3 separate regions of the Homo sapiens genome follow, and all the other regions are linked to region 2. Evidence: fine-mapped expression QTL. A gene starts in region 2. Each other region holds a variant in brackets. All regions are shown on one strand. Distances are between the middles of the regions. Region 1 holds the start of CRYGN (crystallin gamma N). Region 2 holds the start of WDR86 (WD repeat domain 86). Region 3 overlaps WDR86 (WD repeat domain 86).

The links. PIP is the estimated chance that this variant, and not a neighbour inherited with it, causes the effect.
Region 1: its variant is fine-mapped to the expression of WDR86 in whole blood (INTERVAL, PIP 0.96).
Region 3: its variant is fine-mapped to the expression of WDR86 in whole blood (INTERVAL, PIP above 0.99).

What each region holds. Positions count from the first base shown.
Region 1 is chr7:151,435,186-151,441,605 of GRCh38, reverse strand. CRYGN (crystallin gamma N) reads left to right here and starts at 1,465. Exons shown (of 4, transcript NM_144727.3): 1 at 1,465-1,709; 2 at 3,362-3,610; 3 at 5,281-5,426. The coding sequence starts at 1,689. It overlaps LOC124901780, which reads left to right and starts at 5,445. Exons shown (of 1, transcript XM_047421163.1): 1 at 5,445-6,420. RefSeq lists enhancers at 437-973, 1,685-2,185, 2,186-2,686, 3,048-3,897. The variant C/G (reference allele first, on the strand shown) is at 2,863.
Region 2 is chr7:151,406,494-151,412,913 of GRCh38, reverse strand. It overlaps WDR86 (WD repeat domain 86), which reads left to right and starts at 2,876. Exons shown (of 6, transcript NM_198285.3): 1 at 2,876-3,487. The coding sequence starts at 3,325. It overlaps WDR86-AS1 (WDR86 antisense RNA 1), which reads right to left and starts at 3,753. Exons shown (of 6, transcript NR_109857.1): 1 at 3,532-3,753; 2 at 1,602-1,686; 3 at 1,122-1,244; 4 at 844-947; 5 at 62-195. RefSeq lists an enhancer at 1,678-2,310.
Region 3 is chr7:151,379,757-151,386,176 of GRCh38, reverse strand. It overlaps WDR86 (WD repeat domain 86), which reads left to right. Exons shown (of 6, transcript NM_198285.3): 4 at 954-1,089; 5 at 4,196-4,299; 6 at 4,431-5,053. The coding sequence ends at 4,595. Among named protein-coding and RNA genes, the nearest start is that of WDR86-AS1, 26 kb to the left of the region's middle. RefSeq lists silencers at 4,391-4,630, 4,651-4,810. The variant A/CA (reference allele first, on the strand shown) is at 2,999.

The sequences.
Region 1 (6,420 bases), 29 kb before region 2:
TCAGCTGTCACCTGACTCCAAATTGCAAAACCCACCTCCAGTCATAGAGATACAAGAAAATCAGCAATTTTATCCTGAAAACATGAATGCAGTGGGTTGTGTCTGCTTGGCTACAGAAGAGTGAGATCTCTCTCCATCTTTGCGATCTCTTAGGGGAGAGATCGTGATGCAGATCGCATTCCAGTTTAAAGTTTATTCAATAATAAAATTGTTTTTTTTTCCTTCTACCTTCGTGGAGAAGTTTTCTGGGTTGGCTGGAGATTTTGTTTTTAATTTTATGTCCCCACCAGGGCCCAGGTCCAGAGAGAAACATTGGAATGTGTGGCTTGGCAAGTAAGGGCGCCAGTGGAGGCAGCTGGGCGGCGTCCCTAGGGAGGGGCGTCCCTAGGGAGGACCGTCCCTGGGTTCAAGGGTGACATGCAGGTTCTGGTTTGTACCCTGTCTACTTTTGAAAACCTCCCACAGCAGAGGCAAGGTCACCCCTCTGCCCCAAGAATCACATAACCTCCTCTTCCTGGGCCTCAGTGTCTCATCTGTGAAATGGTCATAAAAATATACTGTTTGAAGGAAGAGCAGCCCAAACTCCTCCCCAAAGCTCCTCCCTCCCCTCCAGCAGAAGCCCCTGTGGAGCACCTGCCCCTCTCTCCTTTGATCTCAGAGCCTGTCCCCCACCACCCCAGCCATCTGAGTCATGAGTCCTGTGTTCCCAGCTCATCTCCCCAGCCGTGTGGGGGCTGCACATCCTGTGGGCTCCATGTTCGCTCTGCTCACTCCACAATCTCTGAGCCTCTGCTGTCTGCCAAGTGCTCGTTCTGGGCCCTGGGGAACTCTCCCTCCGCGGTGGGGCTGCTTTGTGCTGTAAACTGATCCTGGGCGTCCAGGGTGGCTTAGTTGGTGCAGCAGAGAGGCAAGGGGCAGAGCACTGTACCCCCAGCTCAGGGCAGCGCGGGTCACCTGGTCACCCTAGGCAGGATCTTCAAGGAGAGAGGGACCCAGGGAGGGAGAGTGCCAGGGAGGGAGGCAGGCAGGAAGAGAGCGGGAGGAGGGAGGCCTGACCTGGCCTGGCGTTTTGTGGGGTGTGGGGGGGTGCATCAGGAGCTGGGTGAGTTGGAGCCGGAGGTCTAAGGTGGGGACCTGGGAGCTCAGACCAGAGCAGCCAGGGGAGGGGCGGTCAAGGGCTGTCTGTCTGTCCGGGGAAGCTTGGGTTGCATCCTCGTGGAGACAAACAAGTTGGCACCAAGGCGAGACTACCTGCAGCCAGGTGAGAAAGGGGAGTGGGCTGGGGAGCTCGGAACAGGCCTTGGGAGGGAGGGAGATGGGCGTGAGGGCTGAGGGGCAGCGCAGGGGAAGAAAGGTTGGAGGGCTAGAGAGACACCTCCCCTCCTCCCCCCACCACTCCAGGGCAGGGCAGGGGCAGCCGCGGGCTGGGCGGGAGGGCTCAGGGAGGAAGGAGGCTCGGGAGCTAAACGCGGAGAGCACAGGGAGACCCCGGGCAGGGCGGGCTGCACTCGCGGTGGCACAGGGTGGCCGCGGCGGGTCCCAACCGCCTGGTGGCCCCTCGGGCTTAGCACGCCCGACAGCACTAACGCTCCGGGGCCGGCCCAGCAAATCTTTTGTCCGGGGCGGCGCTGAGCCAGCAGGGCGCTGCCCGGTGTAAACGGGGACCCGCGGAAGGGGCGGGGCGCACCATGGCGCAGCGCTCGGGGAAGGTGAGTGCGTCCCTCAACCCCAAGGAAACCGAGTGGGGCTCCGCCTTCGCCCCCTGTGCTAGGGGATGCAGGAGGGTGCACACTGTTGATGGTGACAAATCCAAGGGAAGCTGGTTTAATTTCTTAATAAAATGGGGTGGCCTCGCTACTGGCCTGGGGCCTCTCTGGTGTGGATGGATAGGAAGGTCTCCATCTCCACTCCTTCCTTCTGGGATTCCAACCCCTCGCCCTGCAGTCAGGAGCAGGGAGGGTGTTCAGACTCCCTGGGGCTTCCTTGGGGTGGGGGAGGCTTGGCTTGTCCCACAGCCCTCCGCCCCACTGCTGCGGCTTCTTTGCCCAAGGCTGGCCTCTATGGCTTTTCCTTCCCAGGGTCTCTTCAGGGACACTTAGGGCTGGTTCTCTGAAAAATGTTGAGATTTGAGGGAGCCCCGAATCCCTTTGGTGCCCAGACCTCCCTGAAGGTTTCAGGGGCCCTCTACCAGCCGTGCCTGGTGCAGGAAGGACGGGAGACCTGGCTCTCCCTCGCCCTCTCCAGTGCCCCTAGCCTAGCCACTCCCATGAAGCCTTTGGTCTCCAAGGCCACATTCCAGAGTGTCTGGGGGTGACTGTGTTGCTGTATCAGTCTGCATGGGCCAGGTGATGCTTCAGTAACAAAGGGCCCCAGTAACTCTGGGGTGCAGAACGCCAAGGTGTCTGCCTCCTTTCCGGTGAACGCATGTGGCCACGCCTGACTCCAAGGGGCCTGGAAGGGCAATTCTCGTGTTCTTTTGAGCGAACTGGAGACACTGGTGAGGCACAAGCGACCATAGTGATGGGGAACATCACTGCACTCTGGCAGGACCCTTCTAGGGCCACAGTTCTTGAAACCCAAAGAGTTACTAAATGGTTGAGATTTTAGGTTCCACAGCAGGAAATGAGTCTGGCGGGTTGTTATTGCTTCACTTTGTTTTGTTTCGGGACAAGGACAACCTGTGAGTGCCACGTAGCTATAAGACACGATGTCTGAACTCCCAGCAGGGTGATGGAGCTCCAGATCTGATACATGCCTGCTACCCAAAGGAGTGACCTACAAAACACAGAGAGACAGGGTGGCACTTATAAGCCCTCTTTTGCGAACATTAATCCCGAGCCAGGCCCTGACGCGGCTTCGGCC[C/G]ATTCAGCCTCTCCAGTGAAGGAGGCCCAATCCCAGGAACCCGAATTTCTGCAAAATATATGCTGGGTTACCATGAGAGGGTTGTGGGTGAAATTTCTTCTTTTGAAAACACCTCCTTTAATGTTATTATCGGCTTTATGTTTTAATAATTAAAAAATGAGTTAAAAATGCAGTGGAAGTTGAAAACAGCCCATTTTGAAATGGGCACCTAGACAAAGGGGAAACCCCTGTCCCCAAATCGCTGCTGAAATTTGTCTGCCCCACTGTGAGCTCCTAAGGGTGGGGAGGAACAGTAGCTGTGTATGGCATCAGCCTGCCAGCTGTTCGTTCTTTTGCCCAATTGGCAAATAGTGTTGGGCACCTACTGTGTGCAGCAGGTCTGGGCTTTTGGGGGCCTGGGAGTAGGGGTTCCATCCAGGGTGTTGGGACCCAGACGCCAGCCTCCAACGCTGACGGAGAGAAGCCCCTGACCCTGAGCTCTGTAACCTGCCCTTTCTAGATCACTCTCTATGAAGGCAAGCACTTCACAGGGCAGAAGCTGGAGGTCTTCGGGGACTGTGACAACTTCCAGGACCGGGGCTTTATGAACCGAGTGAACTCCATCCACGTGGAGAGCGGAGCCTGGGTCTGCTTCAATCACCCCGACTTCCGGGGCCAGCAGTTCATCTTGGAGCACGGCGACTACCCCGACTTCTTCCGCTGGAACAGCCACAGTGACCACATGGGCTCCTGTCGGCCTGTAGGAATGGTGAGTGGGCCCGTCCACCGAAGGCTGAGTCTTCCTGCTGGAGGGACCGAGGGTCAGCCCTGGCAGACAGTGGCAAGGAATCGGGGAGCGTGGTCCTCCCGGCTTTAAAGTCTGTAAGACTGAAGGAGCTATACCCAGAGCCACCTGCTGGCATGAGGTGAGTAGGTGGGGGGCCAAGTTGCTATGAACTGAGTGGGAGTGGCCCTGAGTTTTCATACAGGTATCAATAAACCACTTTAAGTTTCGGAGCCAAAAATCTAGCTGCATTTTCCATTTAAAATGCTGTTGAAATCATCCAAATTTAGATTTCCAGCCAGATAGGGGACACTCCGCCAATGGGAGGCTGATTTGGGCCTAGTGTGGCCACTAGTACAGGTGGTCTTGTGGCACATTCTGGAGCCTTCCATGTCTTGGAATGGCTGATGGAGGAAGCTGAAGAATCACCCGCCTGTCAGGGGAAAATTGGGGGGCAGGTCCCTTGGAATTACACAGGTAGCTGCCGCCCAAGAGGTGTGTGCAGGGAGGGCAGACGAGGGGCATGGCTCCCCGGTGGCGAAAGACTGTTTCGGTCCAGCTGCTCCTAGGGTGGGATTTAAGCAAGGCCGTTCCCCCAGGTCATGGGTACTCACTGACCTGCTGTGAGCTCTGGAGCTTCAGGTGGGGAGTGGCGGACTCCTGAGCCTGGGGGCGTGCATCTCTCATCACAGAGCGTCTCGCTTATGTCTGCTGAGGACCCTCCCCCGACGCCTGGGCTGGGTGGTTCTGGTGAACATCTGAGGAACCCCAGTAAAGGGGCCTTTGTGTGGTGCCCCCTCTCTTTTCTGTATCAGTTGCAAAACCAGCTGGGCTTTGGCATCTCAAATTGTAAGAATGCTTCCTTAGTATTTCTTCCAGGCTGTGGTCCATTTGGAAAAAAGAAATTTAAATGGTTGGCCCTGGACCCTGCATAATGCTATTTATATGAAAAACATCCTTGGTATCTTGCGAACTGCTGTTCTCCTAAGAGCTAGCCTGGGGCCAGCTGTGACGCAGACCAGGCCCTGCCGGCTTCTGAGCCAGGCAGGGGCTGGCCCTCCTCTGTCTTTTGGAAATGCGGGAATCATATAGGGAGATGTGCTGAGCCTAGGGGACAATGATGTCAAGGCCAGCAGGGGTTTCAGCACATGAGATCTGGTATTTGTTTTAGATTTTTGGCTTTATGTTTTACTAAAAGGTTCTATTACAGTTTTAAAATGTTATCATTTGAAGGCTTGCCCATGGGCTGTGGCCCAGGGGTGGGGAAGTCAGAACCCGGAGTGTGTGGCTGTGATCAGGGCCGGAGTCCCCCACGCTGAGCACCCAGAGGGAGCCCCGTGACCCCAGCCCTGGTCTGAGTGTGACCGCTGGCCTCTGGTCAGTTTGGCCCTCTTTGGACCTCAGATTTTCTAGTTGTAGAAAGAGGAGCTTGGACCAGCTCAGTGGCTTGGAACATTTTCAGAGTAATAGAACCCTTTCTTCCAACCACATCTCATGTGGAAGAACAAACAGAAGTGTGGGGTTGAAGTGTGTGGGGTGGGGGTGCCCAGTGCCTTGGGTACCTCCTAATTCCTTCCTGCATGGGGCTTCTGTTTCTGGGAGAGGGGAATTCACAGCAACCTCCTTCTTTCCTTCTTTTTTGCTTGGTCTTGGAGCACGGAGAACATTTCCGCCTAGAAATCTTCGAGGGTTGCAACTTCACGGGCCAGTGCCTGGAGTTCCTGGAGGACAGCCCCTTCCTCCAGAGCAGGGGCTGGGTCAAGAACTGTGTGAACACCATCAAGGTGTACGGGGACGGAGCGTGAGTACAGGCCACGTGGCCGCACCCCGAGGCCCGGCTAGGCCCTTCAGCACCAGGCGTGGGAGGCTGCCCGCCACACAGGGGTGGTGGGTGGGGTGGGAATGAGACCTCCAGCAGTGGGCAGCGTGTCCCTGGCCCCACAGGCCCTCTCCTTTCCTCAGCTGCCTCACCTGCCCCAGTCAAGCAGCGGGGAGCTTCCCCTGTGGCCCAGAAGGGCCTCAGAGAGGGACTCTGGGCCCCAGAGGCACCCTGAGACCTTCCCTCTAGGGCCTCAGTCCAGGAGCAGAGGTAGGAGAGTACCTTGAAAGTTGCACGGTTCTCTGCGATTGATCTGATACAAGGGGCCGCCTTTGGTTTTCTTGAACCGGGGGACACCTGCTTACCAAGGGGTCCTCCAGGGCCTTATGGGCTGGAAAAGCCACAGTGGGCTCACTTGCTCTGAGAAGGGTGGACCAGCCCACCCTGCCCCCGCGCCTACCCCGCAGAGCTGACCCCTGAACCGGGCCTCTCTGCAAACCCCCACCACCCTGGCCTCTGGGAGGAGATGGACTTCGGGGTGGCTCACTCCTGGACAGAAAGTAGCTGGGGGAATTTTGCCCAGGCCCAGATGGGTTTGTCTGCCCCACACTTGGGTTTCCTCCTGGTCAACCAAGGGCAGCCTGTGTGCCCCCTCCTGCCCTCCCGCACACTCCCCTTTTGCAACTATCCTCTGAGCACCTTCAAGTTGGCCATGTATTTTCATTGTCCAGCCCACACCTCTAGGTCAGGTAGATATTATCGCCCCCGTTCTACAAAGGGCAAGCTGAGACTCAGAAGGCTGACTGCCCGGCCGCCCCGTGGGAGTGGCACAGCTGAGACTGCAGCCAAGCCTGTGTCTGTCCCTGTTCCAGAGCTAGCCGCTTTCCCAGGCCTCAGTCCCCTCCCCTCAGGCCAAGAGCCCCTCACACAGGTTCCAGCTGGCTGTGCATGGTTCTGGCGCCTATCGAAGCAATTG
Region 2 (6,420 bases):
TGCTAAGTTGGGACTATCTGTACAATTACCCTCAAATATATCTTCGATCATACACTCTCACCCCCGGGGTGAAAAACCTTCAGGGCTTCCCGTTTTCTCTCGACTGCCTTGGGCCTGGGGTAGCAAGGTCTTCTCCCGGGAGCACCGTGCTTGTGAGAGTCTGCAGGTGGCTGCAGGACTGGGAAGGCTTCCGTCCTGTTGAAAAATACTAGCACTTAGCACAGTACCTGACACACAGTAAGTACCCAAACTATGAAGATGATGACCACAGGCACCCTCACCACCAGCATTGCAGGTTGTGCCAGAAGGGAAAAAGCAATTCTGACAAAGCTCTGGCTATGACGTTCCCTGTGGGCGCCCCTCAAGGTGCCTCCCTCTGTCACCACCTACACACACACACACACACACAACTCAGGAATATCCAGCTTTCACCATGCTTCTCAGAGAGGCCCCAGAGGGTCACTCTTTCCAGCAGGGTAAATTGTGGCAGTCCCTGTGGCACGGGGAATGAGCACTCCCTGGCACAAAATGCACCCGCCCCCCAACCCTTCACTTGTTAAACACTGCCCATTTCTTGCTTCTTAAAGCTTAACCATTTCCTCCTACACCCTACCAGGTTCCCTTCCCAAGGTGCCTTCCATTTATAAAGTGATTAGGTCCAGGAGGGCCTGGGCACCACGGGACTCCAGGCCCTCTTGGAGGCTCCAGAAGAGTTAAAGGTGTGAAAGGGGAAGGGAGCCCAGGTTCTGCTGGGGACCCAGCCTGACTCCTGGGTCTCTATAGCTTTGCTATCTTAAGGTGGAGGTTGGGGGAGACCCCAGTTTCAGGGGAATTAGGGGAGACCTCAGTTCCAGGGGAATTCGGTGCTGTTTTCCAATCTACCCAGCTTCTTGTACTCCTGTTAGATCTGGGGGCAATTTCCCAGAGGAGAGTCTGTAATCTACGACCTGCAAGAGAAAAGGGAAGACAGGCTGGCTGAGGACATCTGCACCCACAGCTCTACAGTCCAGACTCAACCCCCAGAGATGGCTGGCTCATCCCCACCAGGGGGCCACTTTGTGCCAAACCGGAGAAGGAGGGGTGGGGGAGGTGGAGAAGCCAAGAACAAAAAATCTATCAACCTGGAAAGAGGAAGTAGGTAAGGTCAGCGGTGTGTGGACTGCAGGCTCCCAAGATGATGGCGCTGGCGCTTCTGAACGCTCTGCCTGCTGGGAGCTGAGCATGGGGCTGATGGCTTGTGTTGGCTGCAGAGGAGAGGAACCAGAGTGCATGGGTGCCACCTTGCTCAGGAATCCTGGGTGACCTCCTTGAAAGTTAAGCTTTTCTCCTGGTGGTTCTTTCCTCTGGCCCACGACCAGGCAAGCTCGCCCAACCTACGATCTGTCCCCAGCTCCCAAACTGCTTTCAAACCCCTCCCCTCTTAGTTTCCAAAAGAGTCGATGCCTGGTTCTCCTTGGCCCCTCTGCCCAGAAAGTTTGGGTTTCCTCTGGCACTTCTCCGGATAAACCCTCCCAGCCTCCATGGTCCTCACATTCACCTTCCCCAAGGGCTGCAGCCGCAGGGCCTGCCCAAGATCCCCACTATACCGAGTCTGTCCTCACCTGGAGGCCACACCGCAGTTTCACACCTGGATGTGCAATGGGCCCCCTGAGGTTCACCGGTTCCTAAGAGGAACTGGTGATCAGCCTGTAGGGGACAAAACAGTCTACCCAGCCTCTCAGCACAAGACAGGCTCCCCGGCCTCTCCCGCCTCGCAGGCATCCAAATGCTGAAGCCTCCACCTCCTGAAAACGTCTCTCCTTTCGGCCTCCCTCTCTCCGGCTGGATGACCCCAAATCTCGTCCTAACGCTCCTCCACTGCCCCTCTCTCCACCACCTGCTAAGGAAGGGCCACGCTCCTTAAGCTGAGGCGCCAGCTGCTTTACAAGTTTTGAGGGAAAAGAACGGATTTCTCTGGTTAGGCCACTCTGGGTATAAACGACCCAACGGCCTGGGACACCCCACGATGGGGTTTTCTTTTGGAGTCTGGATAGAGCAGAGCGTGCAGTACTGGTCGTCCCATTGCGGGCTAGCTCGCCAAAGACGCCCCTTCCTTGCCCTTCTCCCTAGGCTCCTGAGAGAGCCCTGGAGCGTTCTGGAAATCCTGCTACCTTTAGGACCTGGGGGATCCGAGTAGGGGGGTCACCTTCCCCGTCCCCAGCGAAGTCGGCGCCGGAACTGCCCTAATGGAAACCAGCCGCCGGGCGCTCCGGGAGGGCTCAGGCCGACCCCGGGGTCCATTAGAGGCGCCCCAGGCCGAGGGAGCCCGCGGCGGCTGGAAGGTGAACTTGACATCCCGGCTCCACCGACCCCGCAGCGGCTCGCACCTCATCCCCACTCCGGCCAGACCAAAGTAGAATCCTGGGTGTGCGCGTGATTTCCCAGGGAGGGCGGACTCGGGGCTTTCCCTGTCGCACCCTCCATTGGGGGACCGCCCCCAAGTCCCCGAGAGCCCCTCGGGCAGAGTCCTTAGGGCTCAGAGCATGGGAGGACCTGGCTTGCCTGGTGGAGGCGAGTAGCCGAGGGGTCGGTGGAGCTGCGCCCCAAATGAGTTCCCGGCGCGCGATTCTCCCCGACCCCGACCCTTTGTCCGCCTCCCCCTCCCTCGTCCCGGCCCTTGGCTCAGGGGACCCAGGCGGCGGCGGCGGAGGTGGCAGAGGCCAGAGCCCAGAGGCGCAGCCCGGGCAGCTAGGAGGGTCGCACGTGGAGCCGTCCCCCGGACCCGCACAGCGACGAAGGGGGGAGGCTGCAGGCGCGCGGGGTGGGGGCTGGGGCGCAGCCCGAGAAGTGGGAGGGGATCGGGTGAGGGGTGGTCTCTGAGGAGGAGCCAGGCTGGACCGTATTGTTCCGCGCTCGGCCGGGGAGGGCGCGGGGCGCTCGGCTTCCCGTGTTCCTCTCCCCGCCCCAGCCCCGTGGGCGCGAGAGGAGGCGGGGGGCTCCTTGTGCACCAGAGACGCAGCTGCCTTGTTCGCCCGGTGGGGTGTGGATCCTCCGAGCGGTGCTGGGAAGGGGGTTCTCTCTGCCCGCGCGCCCAGGACTCTACCCAGGGCGGAGGTCCCGAGTGGGCCGCCCCCCGCAGCGCCCTGGGTTCGCGGGCCCAGAGGCTGGAGGCAGCGGGGAGCTAGGGTCCTTCACCCTCCCCTCGCCGCGTGCCTCCGCAGGAGTCGGGCTCCCCGTTCCCCGCGATGGCCGCGGGCCGCAGTCGTACGGAGCCGCCGCGCGGACCCCGGGGCGCCCCTCCCTAGCGGGGCGCAGCTCCTTCTTGTTCCCCGCCCTGCCAGCGGGATGGGGGGCGGCGGGTCGGCCCTGAGGGTCTGCGCCGACCACCGCGGGGGCATCAACTGGCTGAGCCTGAGCCCCGACGGGCAGCGCCTGCTGACGGGCAGCGAGGACGGCACGGCCCGGCTCTGGAGCACCGCGGACGGCCAGTGCTGCGCGCTCCTGCAAGGTAGACCCTCCCACTCCCTCCCTGACCTCTTCGCCGCAGCTCACCGGCCCCAGACCGCGGACCCCAGCTCCTGCGCCCGCAGACCCCTTTCTAGAAGTCCAGCCCCCGCTCATCCCGGCACACTAGCGGAAGAGCGCTTGTCTGGGCCCAGCATCTGGCTGTTGAGCGCACGGCAGGGCAGGGTGAGGTCTGGGGGTGGGGTGCGGGTGCAGAGCAGGGTGCGGCCGGGATCGGGTGGGTGGGTCGAGGGGCGTCCGCTACAAAGGCGAAGATCATTTGTCAACCAGCGGCAGGAAATCTCCCTTGACAACAATGTTAACAAACAAAAAGTTGCACCTATACTCCTTCTAAGCAAACCTTCCCTTGTCTCTAGGTGCCTTGTGGCCTCTTTGTGGCCAATTGTGCTCTTCTGCTGGCATTTCCTGTTGACGACTCTCACAGCAACAGTAGACGCTTGTTAAGGGCCAGCGGTGCGGAGAAGTGTGCCGTCGTCACACTATGTTACCCCACATACAGACGTGGAAACAGGCTGGGAGTTAAGTAATTCGCCCAGGTCGCACAGCCAGTGAGGGGTAGATGGCAGTCTGAGCCCTCTCATTGCTGTAAACCCTGCCTGCATGCCTGTTGGTTTCTATTTGTGCCCTGTACTCACTCAGGAGGTCAGTGTGCCTCGGGTGCACCTTCCCCTGGGCCTGTCCCATGCACTGTGAGGTCCCTTTCAGCTCTGGCCCTCCTACTGCCCAGGTAGCACACGTAGTCCCCTGGATGAGCCGCGAGGCTTTCTGCTGTGGGTAGTTCTTTATCACCGCGGGCTTTTCCACCATCATCAGTGAACTCTCTGTGGCCTCGCCCAGGCCTTCCAACTTAGGTAGGATATTAGCCCCAATATTGGCTAATCCTGATACTGCTGGTTTTAAATAAGAACAGTTGACCAGGCTCGGTGGCTCACACTTGTAATCCCAACACTTTGGGAGGCCAAGGTGGGTGGATCACCAGAGGTCAGGAGTTTGAGACCAGCCTGGCCAACATGATGAAACCCTGTGTCTAATAAAAATACAAAAAATTAGCTGGGCGTGGTGGCGGGCGCCTGTAATTCCAACTACTCGGGAGGCTGAGGCAGGAGAATCACTTGAACCCAGGAGGCAGAGGTTGCAGTGAGCCAAGATCGTGCCACTGCACTCCAGCCTGGGTGACAGAGCCAGACTCTGTCTAAAAAAAAAAAAAAAAGAAAAGAAAAGAAAAAAATATTACATAGTTAGGGCAGATATTTCAAACCCAACAGGGATGACTTTTGGATTACCGGTTACTTGGGAGTTGGTGTGGATAATGGAGAGGTGGCCACAAACTAACACACATCCCCCCCAAACAGCCACACACACTTATAGGCATTCAACCAGGAATGGAAAATATGAGGTCTTTTAGAAATGTTAAGTCCAGTTGGTATTGCTCCCAAACATAAGACTGTCTTGGGGGTAGAGGGGTGGGTGGTGTTTCAGAAATGCAGATCCCCAGGCCTGGGCTCCAGTGATGCAGTCCTCCATGAATAGGGCTGTAGAACTGGCATTTCTTCTTGTTGTTGTTTTTTGAGATGGAGTTTCGCTCTTGTTGCCCAGGCTGGAGTGCAGTGGCACGATCTTGGCTCACTGCAACCTCCGCCTCCCGGGTTCAAGCGATTCTCCTGCCTTGGCCTCCTGAATAGCTGGGATTACAGGTGCTCGCCACCACGCCCAGCTAATTTTTTTGTATTTTTATTAGACGTGGGGCTTCATCATGTTGGCCAGGCTGGTCTTGAACTCCCGACCTCAGGTGATCCACCCGCCTTGGCCTCCCGAAGTGCTGAGATTACAAGTGTGAGCCACTGCACCCGGCCTAGAATTGGCATTTCTAACAAGCTTTTGGGTGGGTCTTATGCACAGCTGGCCCCGGGAGCCCCTGGGCTGGGGACGGGTTGTGGGAGCCCAGCTTAGCCCACAATTAGGTGGGGTTTCTCCCCAGTGAGGCCCCAGGCTTTGCCAGGCTGCCGGTAGCCTGGTGGGCACTTGGCTTTGCCCCCACGGCAGCTCTGGAGCCTCACCAAGCCTCCAGGGCCCACCCTCCTGCCCAGCTCTGTGTCTGGCACCTGTGCCTCCTTCCTTCACACCCACTTTGGTGACCCTCACGGCTGCTTGTCCCCTTGAGGTACTGACACTCACTTCCCAGGGAGGGTGCCCAACCTTCTGCCCTAATTGAGGGCAGGGCTATCCCCGCTCAAGCAGGACACTGGAATGAAAGAACTGTGGCCCATTTTGCTAGGATTGTTTTTGCTGTTATATGGGTTGGTATTTTCAGGAATTTTCAAGGACGGGGACAGAGGTCATCTTTCTTTATCCTGAGATTCTACTGATACGCTCAACTTGCAAAAGAGTCATTGTGAGTGTGTGACAGTCCTTTTGTGTGGATCCCCAAAGAAAGCAAGGTGTTGCCAGTTCCTTTCTCCTGCAGGATTTTTTTTTTCTATCAGTGAAATATTATTAAAATGTCTTAACATTTGTTTAGTGCCCTATATTTTATAAATAACACATCTTTGTGCTTTTTTATTGTGTAATGAATCCTCACAACTCTGAGGTGGGTGGGATTGACACCAGTTCACAGAGGAGAGTGGGGAGGTGCAGACTCATGAGCAGCATACACGGCATTCTTGTTGTTTTCTAGATACCATCGATAATGGGGTGGGTGCTGTCGCCAACATCCCTCGAGGCGTGGTGCGGTGGCAGGACTTGTCCAGGGTCCCGCAGCTGGTCCATGGCAGAGAGGGTTTCTGAAGACTGTACGGTGCTTCTCTTACCACTGTGGGGGAAGTTGTGTCCAGACCACATGGCTGGTCTGTGGTGGCCCCATCCCTAGAAGCATCCTAACTCTAAATCTAGATCTCTTTCCACTTTGGTTCCGTCCTG
Region 3 (6,420 bases), 27 kb after region 2:
ACTGCCTGCCGGTGGGCCCACTGCCTGCCGACCACAGGAGAAATGCCCTGTGTGCCTGACCCGCTTCTGACTCCTGGTTCCTGGGCCCTAGCAGTAGTGGCAGGAGGCCTCTCTGGGGCATGAAGCCTGCGCCTGTCTCCTGTGCCATCGCGCCAGGTCACTGCAGCTGTGGAGCCCGCCTGCCCGCCCTGGCCTTCTCGTCCGTGACTGCTGACCAGAGGTGCTGGCTGGGAGTGCTCTTGGCTGGGTGGTGTTTAGTCTAGGGGAATTTACAGAATTATTTTAATAGTCTCCGCACTTCCCTGGGGCCGCTACTCCCGTCCATCTTGGCGAGGGCCTCTTCCCTTGTCTCCTGGGCCCTCTCCGTACCTCCTGCGAGACAGCAGCATCACATGGCTGGGTGAGACTGTCTCCCGGGCCCTCTTCTCACTGTGAGCCCCATGAGCAGGGGGAGCAGTGACCCCGTGACAGTCCCCGGCTGTCAGCTCCAGTCTTGGCAGAAGTCTGCCTCACACCCTCGCTCAGGGCTTTCTCTGTCCTGTCTGAAGCAAAAGCCCCATGTGAAAGCCCTTCTCTGGAAGCCCTCTCCTCAGCCAGCAGGAGCGAGCAGTTAAGTGCCTGTACCCCACACACACCCTCGAGGAAGGGGCTGTCCACATCCTAATCCTCAGGGGAAGCAGCTGAGGGGCAGAGAGCCAGGGACTGGCCCAGGGCAGTGTGGGGCTGGGCGGCCAGCCCTGTTGGAGCACTGGCTGCCCCATGGGGCAGGAGCAGCCGCCTGCTTTTGGGTGCTGAAGTGGGCAGTCTGGTGGGGCCGGTGGCGGGGCCATTCGAGGCTCACCCATGGTTTCACCACTGAGACCTGCACATGCCCCTTCCCCCCTTATAGAGGGAGAGGTCTGGGGGGCTTCAGAGCTGCCCCAGCTGCCGACCTTCCCTGCTCCTCCTCGCAGCTGGTGAACCGACTCGTGTACTCTGGCAGCGCGGACAGGACCGTCAAGTGCTGGCTGGCAGACACAGGGGAGTGTGTGCGCACGTTCACGGCCCACAGACGCAACGTGAGCGCCCTCAAGTACCACGCGGGCACCTGTAAGTGACTTGGCCCTGCACGACCTGTGCCACCCCAGCCTGGCTTCTCCTCTCTGCTTCTTTACTTCCTATGGGATTTTCCCTCATTGAGCCTTGGCTGCCAATCATCAGCGTCCAATGGCAGTGCTCGTTCCTTCTCCACACACCCGTGCTTCCAGCTGTTTTGCAAAGAAGGTGCAAATAAGGGTTTGGTGGCTCCTCCCAACCTTTCTCCAGGACAGCCTGGGAGACTGGACTGCTGGGAGGGTCTAGGGTCAAAAGCATGTCCCAAAGGGTGTATCCTAATTCTCCAAGTGAGACAGTGACTGCCCCTTAATCCTGCCAGCCTCGAGGGCCACATGGCTTTGGCCTCACTTGGCCTTAGGATTTGTCTGCAGAGAAGAGAAAATCCAGGTAGCTGTGGTTCCAATGAGGTGGTGGTTTATTTTCTCTCAGGTAGAAGAATTTCAGAGGCTGGTGGTCTCGGCTGGAATGGGTGGCTCCACAAAGTCATCAGGCACCCAGCTTTCTTCTGTCACTCTTCTTCGTCATCCTTAGCACAGACCTTCTATCTTTAAAGAAGCCTCATGATTCAAGATAGCTGCTACAGTGCCAGCCATCGTGTCATGTTTTAGGCAGGCAGAGAGAGAGGATGAAGGGCGAAAGGACGCGTCTTCTAGCTGAGTTGGTCCTTTAAGATCTTTCCTGGAAGCTTCATCCAAGGGCTTCTACATACCTCTCTGTGACCATTCTGTCTGCAAGAGATAGAGAATCATAAAGTCTTTTATCTGAGGAATTTGCTGCCCAGATGGAATCAGGGTTATTTTGGAAAGAAAGAAGGGCAGAATCGCTTGTTGGGCAGGCAACCTGCTGTCTGTCCTACAGGTCTCAACTTGTCACACTCTCGGGCCATTTGGCTCTGCCTCTGGGAGGGAGGAGACTGGGTTGGGGAAGAGTCACAGTGGAATATTCAAGTTGACCTCACAGCAAAGGTGTTGGATGAAGACAGAATGTAGATATCTGAAAATAGATCCTGACATGCCCTCAGGATTCAGGTGTCTGACACAGAAAAATTATTTTTCGTTTGTTCCTGTGTCCAAGGCTGGAAGTGTGGTTACGGCTCTGTTCCCAAGTCTGGGTCCTCTAATTGAACACGAGGAAGGTTCCACTCTCAAAGGCTCTGGCCGGCGGCCGCCTAGAACACCTCCCCGTGCAGCCGGGGCATGGAGCCCGCAGGGAAAGCGAAGCCTGCAGCTCACTGTTGCCCAGCTCGGTTCTTGGTCTTGGCCAGCAAGGCTATGGGATGATCAGACTTTGTTTTTGATCCTCTTCCCACCCGCGGGGAGCTCAGCAGCCACACTGGGTTTTCCAGGCCATGTCCATTTGTCTGAGTTTGTGGGGGGAAGGCAGAAAGGGGCTGAAAAGAGACCCAGAAATGAAACTTCCCCTCTGGGGCCATTCACTCTGTAGTTTTAACAAAAAGGCTGGAACAGGCTGGGCACCGTGGCTCATGCCTGTAATCCCAGCACTTTGGGAAGCCAAGGCGGGAGGATCTCTTGAGCTCAGTAGTTCAAGACCAGCCTGAGCAACATAGCAAGACCCTGTCTCTACAAACATTTTTTTTTTTTTTTTTTTGAGACGGAGTCTTGCTCTGTGGCCCAGGCTGGAGTGAAATGGCGCAGTCTAGGCTCACTGCCACCTCCACTTCCCAGATTCAAGTGATTCTCCTGCCTCAGCCTCCTAAGTAACTGGGACTACAGGTGTGTGCCACCACACCCAGCTAATTTTTGTATTTTTAGTAGAGACAGGGTTTCACCATGTTGGCCAGGCTGGTCTCAAACCCCTGATCTCATGATCTGCTCTGCCAGCTTCAGCTTCCCAAAGTGCTGAGATTACAGGCGTGAGCCACTGTGCCCAGCTCCCCCCCCCC[A/CA]CCCCGCCGCCCCGTTTTTTTTAAAATTAGCTGGGTGTAGTGGTGCATGCCTGTGGTCCCAGCTGCTCAGGAGGCTGAAGCGGGAGGATCGTTTGAGCCCAGGAGTTCAAGGTTAACAGTGAGCTAAGATGGTACCACTGCACTCCAGCCTCGGCAACAGAGTGAGACCCTGTCTCCCTGTAAGAAAAAAAAAAAAAAAGGCTGGGGAACAAGTACCCACAGAGCACCCTCAGATAGATAGGTAGCCCAGCACCCTTACCCTCAGGTGGTCCTACCCCTTTTCCCCAAGGTCCCTGGCAGGCTTGCACCATAGCTGCCCACCGTAGTTACCTGCTCATTGACAGACCCCACAGGACTTCCTCCCTCCCTTTCCATCTCCCATTTCCCTGTGAGCGTTTCCTGGGACGCCTGCCAGGTGAACTGTCTGCATCAAGTCCTAGCATCAGGGTCGGCTTCGGAGAGCCCAGCCTAGGCCAAGTGAGTTCTTCTAGTCCACATCCTCAGTGTGGCCTCCTGACTAGCAGCAGCATCACTTAAAACTGGTTAGAAATGCCGATTCTCAGGCCCCGCCTGCTAAATCAGATTCTGGGATGCGGCCCCGCGATCTGTGGCTAAGACCTCCAAGTGACGGATGCAAATGCAGGTTGCAGTTGGAAAACGATTGGACTGAAATCTTAGGAGAAACCCCAGGGAGAGGCAGCCACCTGGGGGAGGAGACAGACTGAGGTCGGAGGCTCGCCCCCGCTAGGGGTCCCGGGGGTGCGTGATCATGAACCCCAGAGGGCTGGGCTTTGATTTGAGTGCCGATCCGTTAATGAGGACGGGAGGATAAGGTTGCCGACGCAGCGGAAGGTAGGGGGGAAGCGACTCGAGGACCTGACGATTATCCCCAGGCAGGGGCTTCCCAAGCAGGCACGGAAACCAACTTCACCAAACCGCGGAGTGGGGACTGGGCCCGGGCGGTGTTCAGCAGGGCAGGGGCAGGGCCAGCTGGCGCGCAGGCATCTGCAGGGTGGAGCAGAATAACCGTGGGGACCCGTTTCTCTGGAGGGGCACTGTCCACTTCCCATATGAGCCTCAGGATACCCCCGTGGGGCGGAGTCTCGGAGACGCCCCAGGTCACGCTCTCGCCGCCCCATCCCTGCTTGCGGGGGGCCGAGCAGGGAGGGAGGCCCAGCGCGCGCTGTGTGTCCGCAGTGTTCACGGGCAGCGGGGACGCTTGCGCCCGGGCCTTCGACGCGCAGTCTGGAGAGCTGCGGAGGGTGTTCCGGGGCCACACATTCATCATCAACTGCATCCAGGTAGGTCCCTCTGCCCTTCTCGGGGCCGCCGCCCGTGGGAGGGAAGGTGCCCCGCCCCGATCCATCCACGCGGGCAGCGGTGTCCCCCCCGCCTACCGCGTCACCGGTGACGCCCGCCCCTGCGCCCGCAGGTGCACGGCCAGGTGCTCTACACCGCCTCGCACGACGGCGCCCTGCGCCTCTGGGACGTGCGCGGGCTCCGAGGTGCCCCGCGGCCCCCTCCGCCCATGCGCAGCCTCTCGCGGCTCTTCAGCAACAAGGTGGGCTGCGCCGCCGCGCCCCTGCAGCCGGCCTGATCCCGCGGGGCCCCTGCAGACGCCAGCCCAGACACCCAGCGGCTCCCAGAGCGCCCCGCCCTGCTACCCGCGGTGGTGGCGCCCGATGGCCGGCGAGGGGCGAGGAGCGAGGAAGCCCGGGCGGGAGGAGAGCCCGTCGCAGGCGTCTGGTTTTTCTTTGGTGGCCAGGAGGCGCTGGGAGCGGGAGTGCTCGCCCTGGGGACCGCCCCCTTTTCCCTTTTAGGGTGGCTCCTGTCCTCCCTCCCCATCCCTGACCTGGCGAAAGGCCTAGTCCTGGGGACCCTCCCACCTCAGGGGCTGCAGGCGGACTGCCCCAGCTCCCCCAGCCCCACGAAACTGGGCCTTTCCTGCTGAGAGGAAGTGACTTTTTACAGAAGCCACTGAACCTGGTTATTTTGGCAAATCGTCCGTCTCGAGGGCCTTGGGGGGAACTGAAATATACAGCCTGAACGTTAAAAGTGCTCCTGTGTCCTCTTTTTGTTTTGCAAACTGAGTCTCAGCTTCTTTTTGGAGCTTGGGATTCCAGGAACCCAGGGCGGCGGGCCTCCTGCCCTCTGCCTCTCACAACCGGCCTGGGCAGCCTTGGGGGTGACTTGTGGGTGCGCTGCGGGGCTGCCCCCAGTGTCACTGGTGCAGGAAGTGGATGGGGAAGAGGCCGGGGAGCAAGGGAGGAGCTCTTTAGCCTGTGCAGGTGACAGCGGGGACCCTGCTTGGGAGCAGGGTCATTTTCTGGCATGTCATTTTCTGGCATGAATCTAGGAAGTCCGTTCAGGGCCTGGAGTGGAAGGAGGGGTGGGGGCGGGCAGCAGCCCCACCCCGGGCTCGTGCACAGGAGCCAGGGCAGCGCCTGGTGCTGGAAGGCGCAACACACATGCCAGAGCCACCGGGCACCCAAGGGGAGCCCTGTGCCCAGGGGCTCGAGGGGCCAGTGGGGCTCAGTCTGCCGAGGGGCCCTGCAGGAGACCCCTCAGCACCCCTCACAGCACCTGAGCGGGGTGCTCTTCAGTCCCTTGATGGTGCCACTTTCTGCATCCATGTGCCCCGGTTGGCCCGGGTGCCAGGAGAGAAGCTGCAGGTGACAGTGTCTGCCGTGGAGAGCTCATCATCTCGCTGCAGAGAGAAGCACCTGCTGCAGGAGCAGCCCCTTCAAGTGGAGCAGCCCCTTCAAGTGGAGCAGCCCTTTCAGGTAGAGCAGCATGCGCTTCATAGTCTTAATGCAGAAGATACTTCATCAGAGACGGCCGGGGCCGCCAGGGATCACCTGCTAGGTGATGGGCGGGTCCGCCCTCGGGCGCGGATGAACAGGTAGGGATTGCACTGTGGGCAGTAGGAAGGAAAGGACGCAGGCGCTGTAACTCCTCTAGGCCAAACCTCCAAACCCTGGGAACCAAAGTGCCCCCGACCCCCACCCCAGGAAAATGGGCCTGTTGGGAGGCAAGCAGATCGGTGCAGGAGAACCCGCAGAAACGGCACCATGCACTGTTCTCCGGGTGAGACTTAAGCACACACAGACCTCGGGGGTGGCCAGGTCTTGCTGCGTCCCGGAGCCATTGGGGCCTGTGGCTGCCACAAGGGGCATACCTACCAGAGAGGACCTTTCCATCGTGCTGAAGGGACGGTTCCGGTGGCGCAGGCCAGAGAACCGCCTTGAGTGCTGCCTGCGGGCAGTGCTGCCGGCCGGCCCTGAGCCTGCACAGACGTTCACACTGACTCCTGCTTGCCGAAGACACTGCTGCTTGGTGATGCTGCGCTCTGGCCTGAGCAGCCCCTCACTGACACGTCAGCTCCAGTCCCCACCTTATCTCCCCACAGCAGAGAATGGAGC